2 linked regions of the Homo sapiens genome follow. The protein of the gene in region 1 interacts with the protein of each later gene in a pairwise test. Each region holds a gene or a part of one and is shown in the gene's direction. Other genes may lie near its edges.

Region 1 (3,500 bases):
TTGTTCTTGCTTTCTCCTTCTACTCGAGATAGAACCAGGACCTGAATCCAGGCCTACTTGTTTCTAGTCATTGCTGTTTTCACTATAACCAGGTCTCTCATATCCCTGTCCCTTTTTTTTTTCCTGGCTTCATTTTCAGATTTGGGAGAACGATGGGGGAAAATAAAAGGAAAAAATAAAATCTATGTTTTTTGGAGTTCCATTACATATATATACAAAACATACACAGCCTTTGCCAAGTGGGAGTAACTCTTCTGCTGACAAAGGGGTATTGTGGGATGGGCAGAAGTGACCTCGTCTCCTTTCTTGAGCCTCTTTTATACATTCCAGCTCAGCCCAGCTTTCAGATTGTTTTACAGGGCCGAATGCTTCTAGACAATGCTTTATTTCCTAGGATTTGGTATAGCTGAGTTTTTAAGTGTGGAAAAGAGTGATTATGAAAAATGTTTGAGAAGACAGCACTGTCCTCAGAGACTGTGTTTTTACACTTGGACAGGTAGCAAATGTTTGTTTTCATTAAAACTTTAATAGTTTTCCTAATTTGTTTCACTGTCATAAAGCCCAGCAATCATGGAGCTGAGGGTGCTTACCCACTGGGAAAAATCATCCCTGAGAATGTTAGCTTTTTTTTTTTTTTTTTTTCCCCAACTCAGATTTTTATTCCAGTCCTGGAAGGCCTAACATTCAGTCCTCGAAGGCATAACATTCAGTGTCATGAAATTCATCATCTATACCATAGGCAGGAGTGGCTAAATTTCTTTTACTCTGCAGAACTGGCTTGGAAAATATTTTGTACTGTCTATTTCTTGGGAGTAATTTGAGAAATAATTGACTTTACTACAGAATCCTCTCCATCCTCTGGATCAGTGAGTAGCCTCAAGGTATATTGTCTAAGAGTATGGGCTTTAGGGTTGTATAATCTTGAGTTTGAAAGTTGGTTGTTACTCATTAAACTATGTAACCTTGGACATAGTTAATGTACCTTTCTGCACCTGTTCCCTATCTTTAAAATAAGCATAATTGTGTTTGCCTCATGGAACTGTTACAAAGATTAAGTGGCACACGCATGATGATAAACACACAGTGCCTGGCAGATAATAATGGGTTCAGTAATGTTAATTTAGACGTCTCTTCCCTGCCTTCTTATCCTCAGTTCAGATTGAGCATATCCTCTGTGCTCTATGGGACCCAAAACCCCATAAGCTTTTAGAAAATATATTAAACAGGCCGGGTGCAGTGGCTCACGCCTGTAATCCCAGCACTTTGGGAGGCCGAGGCAGGTGGATCACGAGGTCGAGATCGAGACCATCCTGGCTAACACAGTGAAACCCCGTCTCTACTGAAAATACAGAAAACTAGCCGGGCGAGGTGGCGGGTGCCTGTAGTCCCACCTACTCAGGAGGCTGAGGCAGGAGAATGGCATGAACCTGGGAAGCGGAGCTTGCAGTGAGCCGAGATGGTACCACTGCACTCCAGCCTGGGCGACAGCAAGACTCCGTCTCAAAAAAAAAAAAATATACACACACACACACACACACACACACACACACAAAATAAATTTCTAATAGTTCTAGAAGACATGCTATCAGTGACTGGAATTTGTAATTATTTTTGAAAGATGGATAAAGACAAGATAACTGTGAAGAAATAAATAGAAAGATAGCCCAAAGCACATGCCAGGAGTAAGTTGCTGTGAGGTGGGAACTGATTACAGGAGGTTTTTGACCCAGAATTAAAGGGCAGAAGGAGTAGTGATAGGACCTGGGCATTTGTCTGGGTGATAAATTTGGACTCATTTTGGAATAGCTAGGTTAGATTTTCCTTTCCTGTCCTCTCACCCCACCAGAGCCTTCTTCCTTGAAGTAGTGGTGTTTCATTCTATTCTGAAGCAGTGGATAGGGACTCTGGCGGGAACTTCTGAGCATGCCCCAAGTGGTTACCGATTCCCAGGAGGAACTGGGAGGTGAGGAAAAATGTGCTGGCTTTTAGATTTGAATATCCCTGGAAAGCTTTGCAGAAGCTTGAAAACAGACTCACACCGCTATCCATGGTGGTGAAATGTCAGAATATTGAAAACATGAAAAGGAAAATCTAAAAGTTGTACATCAGCACCAGAGGTTCCAGTCAGAGTAATAGGCAAGAAGTAAAAAAGGAATACAGATTGGAAAGAAAAGGTAAAACAGTCTCCATTTGTAGATGATGTACTTATGTCTATAGAAAATCCTACTGAATAAACAAGAAAAAGTCTATAACGAAGTAGTTTCACAGGCTACAAGGTCATTATATAGCAGTTTATTGTACTTCTATATACTAGTAATGAAGAACTGAAGTTGAAATTTTAAAAGGTACTATCTTTAATCATTTCCATCTGAGACTTTTGTCAGCCTGGCCTTCACTGCCCGTATTTCTATCAGTATTTTGGTCAAAACCATTTAACAAATCTCTAAGAAGTTCCAGACTTTCCCTCATCTTCCTGTCTTCTTCTGAACCCTGCAAACTCTTCCAACTTCTGCCCATCAGAAAACATTAATTCTTAGGAATAAACTTAACAAATTGTATTTAAGACCGGTATGTCAACAATAACTAAACGCTGTCAAGAGAAAATCAAGACAAACGTAAATAGATGGAGAGAGAGATACCACGTCAGTCGATTGAAAGATTCAGTATTGGTGGTGGAACACATGGAAGTTGTCCCCAAATTGATCTGTAGAGTCAGTGTAATACCACAAGTTTGTTGTTGTTTTTTGCAGAAGCTTAAAAGGCAAAAACCAGACCACCTACAAGTAAGAAAGAATCCGATTCCCTCTTAAATATAGCACTGGATATTAGAATACACGGAAGAATTGAATAGCTTTAAATGTTTGAGAGGAAAATGGTTTAAATCTAGAAATTCCTTTTCTAAAGGAATTGCTCAAGGATATATTCTTGGGAAAAATCTAAGAAAATGGAAAGATAAGAAACAGCATAAAAAATTCAGTCCAAAAGATGTTGATTTGTGATATTGAACATTAACCAGTCAGCTAAAAATCCCCGATAATCTCATGATGGGAATTGGCGGAGCCACAGAGGAAGGAAAGAGAGAATGGTATGTAGTTCTTATTTGGAGAGAGTATGTAGTACTCAGTACAGTGCCTGATAACATAGATAATGAATATTGTTGAATAATTGCATCCTGATTAACTTTATATTGATAGAAAAGAAGTAGGCTTAAATATGTTTTTAAATCTCTAGAATAGAAACAGGATGTTTTCAAACCAGTAAATTCAACAAACAAGGATACAAGAACAAAAACTCCATCAACCAAACCAAAAAGGTGTCTTGTTTTGTTTCCCTTTGGGACTTGAAAGTAAAAAGCTAAAGTGACCTGCTTGCAAATAGAAGAATGACCTTCAGTAATGTTCACGTAAACAGATCTTCCATATGACAGCACTTGCCCTGCCAAGTGTCAGGCCACTGGGCAAATTAAAGGAGGATGGAGTGTAGGTCTTGAACACTAGAGA
Region 2 (2,168 bases), on another chromosome or scaffold:
CACAGGCCACAGCCCAGGGCCTCAGTACTGCCTGTCCTGCGCCTGCTCCCTCCCCTGCTTCTCTTGGCTCCTGGCCTTGCTGACATCACAGCCAGTAGCGCATACGCAGATGAACCTGTTCCACACTCTGACCGTCCCAGGGCCTTTTGAGGACTGGCCACTTTTGCCTGAAGTCCTTGTTTCACGGCACAAAGCTGCCTCAAGTTTTCTCCATCACATAGCCCAGCAGATTCTCAATTTCCTCTCATGCCAGGGTAACAAAACTTGTCATTATAATCCAGTATTTGTGTCAGATTTCTTTTTTTTTTGGAGACAGAGTCTTGCTCTGTCGCCTAGGCTGGATGGAGTGCAGTGGTGCGATCTCTGCTCACTGCAAGCTCCACCTCCCGGGTTCACACCATTCTCCTGCCTCAGCCTCCCGGGTAGCTGGGACTACAGGCGCCCGCCACCACGCCCAGCTAATTTTTTTGTATTTTTTAGTAGAGATGGGGTTTCACCGTGTTCGCCAGGATGGTCTCGATCTCCTGACCTTGGGATCTGCCCACCTCAGCCTCCCAAAGTGCTGGGATTACAGGCGTGAACCACTGCCCCCGGCCTTGGGTCAGATTTCTAAGAGCCCAAAACTGTGGTTTGCGTAAACCTGGGAGGATAAAAGAGAGCAGGCTGATCTGTAGCGTTTCTCCACCGGCCTCATGCAAAGCATGGCTTCCTCCCCTCTCTAGTTTGAAAAGAACACGAAGTCCGACCTGCTGCTGAAGGAGCTGTACGTGGAGAACGCCCACCTGGTGAGAGCACTTCAGGCCACCGAGGAGAAGCAGCGAGGCGCCGAGAAACAAAGCCGCCTCTTGGAAGAAAAAGTTCGCGCTCTCAACAAACTCGTCAGTAGGATTGCCCCCGCAGCCCTCTCTGTGTAAAGACAGATTATTTTCTAGGATTCATTCGAAAGCACATCTTTTAAATTAAGCCACTGTGCTGCCTTAGATTCCGTGGGTCATGAGCCATGAGTCCTGGGACATCTGAGGATTGGGATTCTTTGTTCACCCCGCAGATAGTTAATGAATGGTCTGCCCTGGGCAAGATGGAGGTGGGGGCTGGGGGAATATGCATGTTGCAGAAGCCGGCGTTTTTATTAGCGGTCCTGAGTAATTTCCCTTGGCAAAATTCCCAGTTTTGCCACTCTCTGGAGCCAGATCCTGGGAGCTGTCAGCAAGGAGCAGGTAAGTGAGCAGTTATGGACAGCACTTTCCATGTGGTGCTTCCGACCCTGGCTGTCAGAGTGAAATGTAAAGTCAGGGCTCTGTACAGTTTTGCCATTTCACTGTTCTGCTTTAAGCTTAGCTTATTAGAACTCTTGGTGGAGGGTGCGTACACACATTCCAGAAAAGGCTTCACTCGCTGGGAACGTCAACCCAGCGAGAAAGGAGGGGAAGCCCCTTCTCCGGGGACCTTATCTGTGGACTCAGGAATGATGGTGTTTATTGCAAATGCACAATCTTTTTCCCATTGAAATGTCATCACACTGGAAATTGTACTATATGTAAAAAAAAAAAAAAGTATAGTTTTATATTTGAAATGTATGCAAATTATGGCCATATGGCTGATTGGAATGTACTACTGTAATATAAAAAGTCACTGTATTTGCAATAAATTCTTTTCTATTAAAATTGACTTCTAAGTTTGTTTTTAATTTTTTAAACTATAAAATATTTCAAACATAGAGGAAAATAGTTATGTAAGAAACACCCATGTGCCCATCAACATATCTAGTAAGAATAATATCCTGCCACAGCACTGTGGAGGGCGGGAGCCTGTTCTGTTCTCAGCCTCCTCCCTCTTCCCGGGGCAGCCGCCATCCCAAAGCTGGCATGTCTTCTCCTTTCTGCAGGAGAAAAATGTCACAGCACCGTGGAAAGATAACAAAGCCTGGAACAGATGGAAAGGTCGGTTCTTTGGAAGATTCGGCAACATGAAGTTGACTGGTTCTTCAAAGTTTACTGATGATAAATGTAATTAATCCCAATATAAATACAGATGTTACATGCCCCAATCAACCCCAGAATTGGACAAGACATTCTAAAGTTTTTACATACAACTAAATAAGCAAACAAAACAATTAGGAAAACTCTGAAGAAAGAAGAGCAATGTATGGGGACTAGTTCTACCAGTTA

The links.
Region 2: the proteins of KANSL1 (region 1) and NINL interact in a two-hybrid assay, tested with the Homo sapiens proteins (one large-scale study listed by BioGRID and IntAct).

The regions. Positions count from the first base shown.
Region 1 is NC_000017.11:46,039,930-46,043,429, reverse strand, and holds part of KANSL1 (KAT8 regulatory NSL complex subunit 1), read left to right. Parts: intron 1-3,500. UniProt on the Homo sapiens protein: Non-catalytic component of the NSL histone acetyltransferase complex, a multiprotein complex that mediates histone H4 acetylation at 'Lys-5'- and 'Lys-8' (H4K5ac and H4K8ac) at transcription start sites and promotes transcription initiation.
Region 2 is NC_000020.11:25,452,197-25,454,364, reverse strand, and holds the end of NINL (ninein-like protein), read left to right. Parts: intron 1-722; coding exon 723-914; 3' UTR 915-1,668; downstream 1,669-2,168. UniProt on the Homo sapiens protein: Involved in the microtubule organization in interphase cells. Overexpression induces the fragmentation of the Golgi, and causes lysosomes to disperse toward the cell periphery; it also interferes with mitotic spindle assembly.